2 linked regions of the Homo sapiens genome follow. The protein of the gene in region 2 purifies or fractionates together with the protein of the main gene of each other region. This does not show direct contact. Each region holds a gene or a part of one and is shown on either strand. Other genes may lie near its edges.

Evidence for each region. Proteins that work in one complex are often made in the same cells at the same time.
Region 1: the proteins of NGB (region 2) and MPP2 purify together in Homo sapiens (affinity purification with mass spectrometry; 2 studies listed by BioGRID and IntAct, with this or other methods). This does not show direct contact.

The regions. Positions count from the first base shown.
Region 1 is NC_000017.11:43,876,537-43,883,584, reverse strand, and holds part of MPP2 (MAGUK p55 subfamily member 2), read left to right. Parts: intron 1-229; coding exon 230-382; intron 383-532; coding exon 533-682; intron 683-1,073; coding exon 1,074-1,301; intron 1,302-1,995; coding exon 1,996-2,127; intron 2,128-2,235; coding exon 2,236-2,341; intron 2,342-2,426; coding exon 2,427-2,495; intron 2,496-2,700; coding exon of another isoform or gene 2,701-2,732; coding exon 2,733-2,894; intron 2,895-3,600; coding exon 3,601-3,803; intron 3,804-4,181; coding exon 4,182-4,310; intron 4,311-5,601; coding exon 5,602-5,778; 3' UTR 5,779-7,048. UniProt on the Homo sapiens protein: Postsynaptic MAGUK scaffold protein that links CADM1 cell adhesion molecules to core components of the postsynaptic density. In CA1 pyramidal neurons, required for synaptic KCNN2-containing channel function and long-term potentiation expression.
Region 2 is NC_000014.9:77,264,983-77,268,206, reverse strand, and holds the end of NGB (neuroglobin), read left to right. Parts: intron 1-1,536; coding exon 1,537-1,671; 3' UTR 1,672-2,724; downstream 2,725-3,224. UniProt on the Homo sapiens protein: Monomeric globin with a bis-histidyl six-coordinate heme-iron atom through which it can bind dioxygen, carbon monoxide and nitric oxide.

The sequences.
Region 1 (7,048 bases), on a different chromosome or scaffold from region 2:
CTTTGGTTTCTTCCTTCCCTAAACTAGGTCCTAGTAATTTTGGGGAAGAAAGGAGACAGCAAGGAATGCATGTGCACGTGTGGGTATGATTGTCAGTGAGTGAGGAGCTGAAGCTGGGGGCTGGGGGGTGGGATGGGGAAAATGCCTGGGGGCTGAGGGAGGACCCTGCTTGGTGTCCCAGGGCTCCTGGGGAAGCTCCTAGCCCCACCTGTTCTGCTTCCACCCCCAGGCCCATGAGAGGCTGGAGGAGACGAAGCTGGAGGCCGTGAGAGACAACAACCTGGAGCTGGTGCAGGAGATCCTGCGGGACCTGGCGCAGCTGGCTGAGCAGAGCAGCACAGCCGCCGAGCTGGCCCACATCCTCCAGGAGCCCCACTTCCAGGTTCCTGGCTGCTAGGGCTGGGGTGAGGGAGCAGGAGGTGGGTGGACTGGGGCATGCTGCTGTTGGATGGGCCAGCAGGAAGTTGGATCTGGGATGGGAAGAGACCCGGGACACTGCCCCATTGTCCCTTCTCTTCCCACCACCCCCCAGTCCCTCCTGGAGACGCACGACTCTGTGGCCTCAAAGACCTATGAGACACCACCCCCCAGCCCTGGCCTGGACCCTACATTCAGCAACCAGCCTGTACCTCCCGATGCTGTGCGCATGGTGGGCATCCGCAAGACAGCCGGAGAACATCTGGTGAGGACTGGGCAGGGCCAGAGGTGGTGCTGGTGAGGGTGGGGGGATTGAGAATAACCAATGAACGGACAAAAAAGGCCAAGTGTGGTCTGAAGATGAAGATGGGGCCAGCTTTGTGCAGGGAAGGATTGATGCAGCAAAGGGTCGGGGGAAGACCCAGGAGACCATAGACACTGCACACACACCTGTGTCCGCACCTCTCCAGTCTGCCCACCTCTCCCCTCATTAGTACCTGCTGTAAGTGAAGAATTTAGGCAGAAGGATGGAGGAGGACTTTGTGAGGGTGGGGGTGGGTGGGTAGGGACAGGAATGGAGGAGCTATTAGGAGACTATTTGAAGATTCTGACTTGGAGCAATTGGGGCCTCATCTTACACTCCCTCTGACCTCCAGGGTGTAACGTTCCGCGTGGAGGGCGGCGAGCTGGTGATCGCGCGCATTCTGCATGGGGGCATGGTGGCTCAACAAGGCCTGCTGCATGTGGGTGACATCATCAAGGAGGTGAACGGGCAGCCAGTGGGCAGTGACCCCCGCGCACTGCAGGAGCTCCTGCGCAATGCCAGTGGCAGTGTCATCCTCAAGATCCTGCCCAGCTACCAGGAGCCCCATCTGCCCCGCCAGGTGGGCCCCTCACCCAGCACAAGGCCCAAGGGATGGCTGAGCCTCCTGGCTGTCAAGGTTGCAGGTCTCACGGAGGCCCTCCTCTCCTACTGGTTTCCTCCAGGGAAGATGGGGGTGGGACCTGCAGCCCAGGGGCAGCTGACCGCAGCCGCCGACAGGCCTCTGCCGCTGCTGCACCTGCACATGCTCCCACATTGGCTGGTATTATGCACGCAGCCACAGCCTGGGGTACAAGTGTATGAGAGAGCGCCTGCATTATGGTCAGCGTTCTTCACGTTTGTGCGCGTGCGCAGGGTGGGGTTGTCATATGTCCTGGATAGCTGTCTCCTGGTTGGTCAATTCTGGGGGTGTGGCTGCTCTGTCTCCCTATCCTATTGGGTCTCTCGCCCTCCACCAGAGCCCTTCTCCAAGGGGAGAGGGTGAGTGGAGGGAGGGATCCAGGATTAGGTGCCAGGGTCCTGTGCCCTACTTGGTGGTCCCGCATCCTTGGTCCTGAGATCTGAATCCTGTAGTACTAGATGCAAAGGGAGGTTGGCACCAGGGAGGAGCATGGGCAGGCCTGGAGGCATCACTCCTGCAGGGGGACAGTTCCATTGCCCCTTAGTCTCTGTGAAAAGAGGGGGCATGGGGTAGACCTCCACCTGCAGCCTTCTGCTGACCCTTCCCCCGACCCTTTGCTGATTCCTGGGCCCAGGTATTTGTGAAATGTCACTTTGACTATGACCCGGCCCGAGACAGCCTCATCCCCTGCAAGGAAGCAGGCCTGCGCTTCAACGCCGGGGACTTGCTCCAGATCGTAAACCAGGATGATGCCAACTGGTGGCAGGTGAGCTGCGGGCACCCCCGCATCTCTCCAGGTATGGTGCATGGGAGGGCGAGGGCACAGGGAGGGGTCCTCTTGCTCAGGCAGATCTTGGTCTCATGTCCGTTTTAGGCATGCCATGTCGAAGGGGGCAGTGCTGGGCTCATTCCCAGCCAGCTGCTGGAGGAGAAGCGGAAAGCATTTGTCAAGAGGGACCTGGAGCTGACACCAAACTCAGGTAGGAGGTCCCCCCTACCCCACACCTCCAATCTGGGATCCAACAGGGCCCTGTCTGCCTCACTCACCCATCTCCCTATGGCCAGGGACCCTATGCGGCAGCCTTTCAGGAAAGAAAAAGAAGCGAATGATGTATTTGACCACCAAGAATGCAGGTGGGTATCAGAGCGCCCCCTCCCTTACCCTCCTCTAACATGGCATGCCTTTCCCTGTCCCCACCCATCACCTGTGACGACGTGTGCCTGGCTCAGATGCTGCCAGCCGTGTCCCTAGGCCCTGCCCGACTCCCCCCTGCTCCCCTGTTCCAAGCCCTCTTGCCCTCAGCCTCCCTGAGAGCTCCGCCCCTCCCTCACCGTGCAGCCTGGTGAGCAGCGCCATCTCCCTGTGTCCAGAGTTTGACCGTCATGAGCTGCTCATTTATGAGGAGGTGGCCCGCATGCCCCCGTTCCGCCGGAAAACCCTGGTACTGATTGGGGCTCAGGGCGTGGGACGGCGCAGCCTGAAGAACAAGCTCATCATGTGGGATCCAGATCGCTATGGCACCACGGTGCCCTGTGAGTGGGAGCTGGGCCCTGCTGAGTTGGGGACAAGGAGCAGGGCTCCCCTGGGGCCAGGGCTGGGCCCACCGAATGGGCATCTTCATGGGCACCAGGCCAGGTGGTACCTTTGGGTACACGGGTTGGGGTGCACGCCCTCTGTGGGTGGTTAGGGGAACTTCAGGCTCAGGAAGGGTGAGGGAGGTGTCCAGCCAACAGGTGGCCTAGCGGGCTGGGCTGGCGTCCACTTTCCTTCTCTTGTTTCACTTGCTAAAAGCCATGAAGAAAGTGAGTGCCCAGCTGTGCACCCGGGTGAAACAGGCTACGAGCTGCATGTGTGTAGCCTTGTGGAAGACAGGGCTTCTTAGTGGCAGAAACAGCGGGGGTGGTGGAAGCTCCTGGCTGCCAGAGGCAGGACTAAGAGCACTGCCCTGGTCTGCTTGGCTCTTGCTGTGTGGCTTTGGGCTGTACATTGCCCTTTCTGGACCTCAGCCTCTCTTCTGTGGGCTCTGGGCTGGACCATGATTACCAGCTCATGTCTCTGTGTGTGCCAATGGGGAGAGTGGGGGGCAGGTGTGTGCAAAGGCAGCAGTGCTGGCAAGATGGGGAGCAGACTGCACCTCCAAGGCTGGGAAACGGGGGCCTGGGTAGGGGTGCATATATGTGTCTGAGGCACTGTAACCTGCCCCTGCCCATTTGGTCCAACCTACCCCCATCCCCCTAGACACCTCCCGGCGGCCGAAAGACTCAGAGCGGGAAGGTCAGGGTTACAGCTTTGTGTCCCGTGGGGAGATGGAGGCTGACGTCCGTGCTGGGCGCTACCTGGAGCATGGCGAATACGAGGGCAACCTGTATGGCACACGTATTGACTCCATCCGGGGCGTGGTCGCTGCTGGGAAGGTGTGCGTGCTGGATGTCAACCCCCAGGTACCGCCACTCTGCTCCTTCCCAGCCTGCCCAATGTCCTCTCTGCTGCCTCATTGCTCCCCCATATAGTTCCAGACACCTGTCACCTGAACACGCCCATGTACCCCCTTTGCCCTCAACTACTGCTAGAAACCCAGCCCACCTGGAACCTTTCTCAGCCTTCCAGAGTCCCCACTCCTCCTCTAGTCTCCTCCAGTCACCCCAGCCACCTGCCAGCTGTTTGTCATTTGTCCCAGGACTCATGTCCCAGACCCCCGGGCACCCTTTTCTCATCCACTCCCAAGTGCTCACCCCAACCCCAGTTACCCTCACAGCCTTTCTCTGGTTCCTAGGACAGACATGGGGATATACTCCCTACCTTGCCTTCTCCTTCTGCAGGCGGTGAAGGTGCTACGAACGGCCGAGTTTGTCCCTTACGTGGTGTTCATCGAGGCCCCAGACTTCGAGACCCTGCGGGCCATGAACAGGGCTGCGCTGGAGAGTGGAATATCCACCAAGCAGCTCACGGTGAGGGCTCTGAGGTGTGGGGGAGGGGTCTGATAGCTGCCTAGGGTGGTGGGGGACAGGCCTGAGCTGACAGAGAGAAGGAGGTGGTGTTGGGGAGGGACAGGGGCCTGCTCCAGTTATCAGTGAGGCAGGACGTGGTCCCCCCTGCATAGATGTGGAAGGGGAGGTCTGAGAGAGGAAGTCCAAAGTCTCAGAGTGAGCCAGGCACACACCTAGCCTGGGATACATGTGCTTCTGACTCAAGGCCCCCGGCTCAGCCCACTCTGCAGAGACAGAGTGCTGGCCAGAGAGAGTTCCCGAGGGCAACTGGGAGAGGTGGGCTGGAGGTGGGCCAGGTGAGCTTGGGTTGCTTACAGCTGGGGGAAAGCTGAAGGGTAGGAGAAAGCCAGAGGCGGGAAGGCTGGCTGGAGGGCTGAGTCAGCGTCAGGGAGCAGGCAGCGCCTGGAGGAGAGGCTTCAAGGCCTCATTGCAGAACTCCAGCCCCATCCTCCTTCCTATGTCTTGCTGCGCCTTCCCAGGAGGTGGAGGGTTTGCGGCGCTCTGAGCGCAGGGGTCCCTCTGCTGGCCATGCCTGGTGCTGCAGCATTCCGGCCCCAGGTCAGAGCGTGCCTGGGGCCCAGGAGAGGCTGTCTAGGCTGGCACCCTTCTGCCAATGACCCCCTTAAGGAGCTCTGGACCTTTGCCTGATCCCCATTCTGGGCACCTCCTCCTTGGCAACAGGTGTGGCCAACTGGAGCTGTTGGGATGCAGCTAGCTTCAGCTTATTTAAGTCAGTTGTCAAGTACCCTTCCTCACCCCTGCCCATCCAGCTTCCACTGGGTCGAGGGTGGGGTTGCCCTGGGTACTTGTGGATTGCCCTGGTACCAGCCTGTCTAGCTGCATAGGTAAGGCAGCCTAGTCAGACTTGAGGGAGCACTGGCTTGAGAGTCAGGCAGACCCTGTTTAGCCACTGACTGGCTATGTGACCTTTTTATACCTTCATTTTCTCTGCTATAAATGGGAAAGAATTAATCCTATCTTGCAGAGCTGTAGTGAAGATTATGTGGCATGCAAAGCATTTAGGGGTGTGATTGGCAGTTATTAAAGCTTATTTCCTCCCTTTCACTCACCATCTGTGGTTGATGGTGAGCCACTTTGAGGCACGCAGAGAGGGGCCCCTGCCTCCCTAGCCAGGGAGTCCACACCAGGGTTGGGCTTTGGGGAGGGGGAGTGGGGGCAGCTGTAGCTCCTTCTGACAGTGGGGGTGAGTTGTGGGCACTGACTGTAGGGAGGTCCCCTTGTGCCTGGGCAGGAGGCGGACCTGAGACGGACAGTGGAGGAGAGCAGCCGCATCCAGCGGGGCTACGGGCACTACTTTGACCTCTGCCTGGTCAATAGCAACCTGGAGAGGACCTTCCGCGAGCTCCAGACAGCCATGGAGAAGCTACGGACAGAGCCCCAGTGGGTGCCTGTCAGCTGGGTGTACTGAGCCTGTTCACCTGGTCTTTGGCTCACTCTGTGTTGAAACCCAGAACCTGAATCCATCCCCCTCCTGACCTGTGACCCCCTGCCACAATCCTTAGCCCCCATATCTGGCTGTCCTTGGGTAACAGCTCCCAGCAGGCCCTAAGTCTGGCTTCAGCACAGAGGCGTGCACTGCCAGGGAGGTGGGCATTCATGGGGTACCTTGTGCCCAGGTGCTGCCCACTCCTGATGCCCATTGGTCACCAGATATCTCTGAGGGCCAAGCTATGCCCAGGAATGTGTCAGAGTCACCTCCATAATGGTCAGTACAGAGAAGAGAAAAGCTGCTTTGGGACCACATGGTCAGTAGGCACACTGCCCCCTGCCACCCCTCCCCAGTCACCAGTTCTCCTCTGGACTGGCCACACCCACCCCATTCCTGGACTCCTCCCACCTCTCACCCCTGTGTCGGAGGAACAGGCCTTGGGCTGTTTCCGTGTGACCAGGGGAATGTGTGGCCCGCTGGCAGCCAGGCAGGCCCGGGTGGTGGTGCCAGCCTGGTGCCATCTTGAAGGCTGGAGGAGTCAGAGTGAGAGCTAGTGGCCACAGCTGCAGAGCACTGCAGCTCCCAGCTCCTTTGGAAAGGGACAGGGTCGCAGGGCAGATGCTGCTCGGTCCTTCCCTCATCCACAGCTTCTCACTGCCGAAGTTTCTCCAGATTTCTCCAATGTGTCCTGACAGGTCAGCCCTGCTCCCCACAGGGCCAGGCTGGCAGGGGCCAGTGGGCTCAGCCCAGGTAGGGGCAGGATGGAGGGCTGAGCCCTGTGACAACCTGCTGTTACCAACTGAAGAGCCCCAAGCTCTCCATGGCCCACAGCAGGCACAGGTCTGAGCTCTATGTCCTTGACCTTGGTCCATTTGGTTTTCTGTCTAGCCAGGTCCAGGTAGCCCACTTGCATCAGGGCTGCTGGGTTGGAGGGGCTAAGGAGGAGTGCAGAGGGGACCTTGGGAGCCTGGGCTTGAAGGACAGTTGCCCTCCAGGAGGTTCCTCACACACAACTCCAGAGGCGCCATTTACACTGTAGTCTGTACAACCTGTGGTTCCACGTGCATGTTCGGCACCTGTCTGTGCCTCTGGCACCAGGTTGTGTGTATGTGTGTGCGTGTGCACGTGCGTGTGTGTGTGTGTGTGTCAGGTTTAATTTGGGGAGGAAGCAAAGGGTTTTGTTTTGGAGGTCACTCTTTGGGGCCCCTTTCTGGGGGTTCCCCATCAGCCCTCATTTCTTATAATACCC
Region 2 (3,224 bases):
TTCTATTGCTATGTATCAAACAACCCTAGAACTATGACAATGCTTTCCGATTTCTCATGGCTGGGCTCAGCTGGGCAGCTCTTCTGCTCCACATGGTGTAGCTGGAGTTACTTGTGTGTTATGTTTAGCTGGGAGCTCAACTGAGGCTAGAATGTCCAAGGCCTGTCAGCCTTTGAGCTCTGTCCCTGTGATTTGTTGTCATTCACTAGTCTAGCTGAGCTTCTTTATAGAATAGCAGCTGAGTTCCAAGGGGGAGTTTTTAGAGGACAAGCCCCAGTGTGAAAGTGCCTATAAAGCCTCTGCTTGCATCACTTTTGCTAATGTCCCATTGGCCAAAGCCACTCACATGGATAAGCCCAGTGTCAATGTGGGAGGACCCTACTCAAGGGCATGAATCCTTGAGGTGTAGCCCACTGGGGGCGACTGATATGACAGTACACCACACAGTCCAGTCACCTTGCCAGATGGTGAGCACCTTGAGGAAGGAGCTGTGTTGGTCTTGTCCTCCTCTCCATCCCCAGCACCAGCATAGTGCCTGATCTACCAGGGCTACAGTGGATATTCAGTTAATATTTGTGAGATAAATAAACCTTATTTTATTATGAGTAATAATGGCAAATGAGAGCCATTATCTTTATTTATTTATTTACTTACTTATTTATTCTGGGGACAGAATCTTGCTCTGTCGCCTAGGCTGGAGTACAGTGATGTGATCACAGCTCACTGCAGCCTCAACCTCCCAGGCTCAAGTGATCCTCCCACCTCAGCCTCCCTCATAGCTGGGACTACAGGCATGCACCACCATGCCCAGCTAATTTTTGTATTTTTGGTAGAGATGGAGTTTTCCCATGTTTACCAGGCTGGTCTCAAACTCCTGGGCTCAAGTGGTCTGCCCACCTCAGCCTCCTAAAGTGCTGGGATTATAGGCGTGAGCTACTGCACCTGGCCTATTATCATTGTAGGTTTCCTGTATACAGATGCTGTGCTAAGAGCTTTTTCTGGATTATCCCATTTAATCATCCCAACAGGCCCAGGAGTTGGAGCTTCTACTTTCCCTGTATCACTGATGAAGCAGCTGAGGCTCAGAGAGGTTACATAACTTACCCAAGGTCACCCAGCTGATGAAGGGTGGAGTCAGAATCTGTACTCAGGTCTATCTGGCTCCAGAGCCCAGGCTCTTAACCCCATCATTGCTGCCTTGCAGATGAGGAAACTCAAGTCTGGGAGCAATGACTTGGTTTGGTCTAAGCTGGGAGGTCCCAGGCAATGTCTTGGCCCCACTCATGGGGTGGTTGCAAGACCAAGACAGGGGTGAAAAATGTGAGGATATAAAGCCTCACATTTAGAGGGAAAGGTAGACACAATGTGATACCCAAGGATTTGGGTAGGACCCTGCTCAGGAAGCATGGACTCAATGCAGGAGAGGAAAAAAGGCCCAGGAGCCCTAATCAGTCCTAGGCCTCAGTTTTCTCACCTGTGGAATGGAGCAGTGCCTTTCTGCCTTTGGAAGTGACAAGGTGCCCCTTGCCTCTGCAGACAGTGGGTGAGTCTCTGCTCTACATGCTGGAGAAGTGTCTGGGCCCTGCCTTCACACCAGCCACACGGGCTGCCTGGAGCCAACTCTACGGGGCCGTAGTGCAGGCCATGAGTCGAGGCTGGGATGGCGAGTAAGAGGCGACCCCGCCCGGCAGCCCCCATCCATCTGTGTCTGTCTGTTGGCCTGTATCTGTTGTAGCCCAGGCTCCCCAAGCTTCCCTGCATCTTGGTCCTTGTCCCCTTGGCCACACTGGAGAGGTGATGGGGCAGGGCTGGGTCTCAGTATCCTAGAGTCCAGCTGCAGAAGGAGTGGCTTTTCCTCCAGGAAGGGGCTTCTGGGTGTCCCCTCATCCCCAGTAGCCTCTTTCTTGCGTTTCTTTTTACCTTTTTTGGCACTCCCTCTGACCCCGCGATGAGTGTTTTGGTGGCAGAGGTGGGATGAGCTGGAAAGGTATGGAGGTGGGAGAGGATGGGGCTCTTCTGTCTGTCCTGCTTCTTCAGGTGAGTGCAGGCCAAGGCGGGGGTGAGATGGCTGAGCTTCCAGCGCCTTCTGTCCTGCCTGCCCAGTCCCTTCACTGCTTTCCTGCCCCAAGATGGCTTGCTTTTCACAAATAAAGAGAAAGAGCAGCTTTAGCCTTCTTGGTGGAATCCCAGGCAGTGGGAGCAGAATCAGAACTGCCAGGGAAGGGAAGGGGGACCTGGGTCTCAATGGGTCTCATTTGAGTCTCGCGGGCTGTGCAGATGCCCTGACAGAGTCGGTTTCCTTTGGCGGCATTCCCTTTCCCTCATTCAGCACTTCTGCTGGGAACTCCCTGACTATTCCGCTGCTGCAGGAACCCAGCTAGCTGGCCAGGTGGGGAGGGGCTGGGGACCGGCCAGGAAGGAGGGGTGACTTCATCCCAGAGAGACCCGAGTTCCCCCAGCCCTTCATCACCAACCCGCTCCTGCAGGAGTGAGTCTTACCTCCCCTGGCCCTCCTTTCTGGCTCAGCCTGCAGCGACTGTGAGGCCACAGCTCCTCAGATTCACTGCCCGCTGTGTGCCAGTACTCAGGCAGCTGGAGAGAAGAGAAGGCAGCAGCAGAGGCCCCCGCCCTCACCCCAGCCATCTGCACTTGTACCATTTGCTCTGTGCTGACTGTGGTCCTATAAATTCATGAGAAATAAACTGGTTCTGTGTGCCTCTCTGACCCTCGGGCCTGATCTTTTCTTGGGTCTTGGCCTGTGCCAGATGAAGCTGCAGGGCAGTGGATCTCAGGACAGGATGGGAGGATGGAGTCAGGGAGGCCAAGGCTGGAGTGGGTGGAACAGGAGGGAGGGGCCTGGGAGGAAGCTCTGGGAAGCCAGTGGCAGACATCTGTGGGGTCTGTGGCCCAAACTGGCTGGCAGACCACAAACCAGCTCTTCTTCCTCCTGGGCACACAGCTGGATGTCATGCAGCCACCCTTGCAATTAGGTGGGGCATGTGACTGGGCTCTGGCCGCTGGACCGTGCAGATGTGTGTGCCACTCCGAGGCCTGGTCCCCCAAAACTCCTGCATGCTCCTCCATGCTCTGTCATCCTTCTGCTGGTGTGATACAGACCTCACAGAGACCATGAGGGCCACGTGTTGAACATGGCAGAGCCACAGGTGAAAGGAGTCCTGACCCTGAATCGCTGCTTGGAGGAAGGTGCCTATTAATCAGAATCA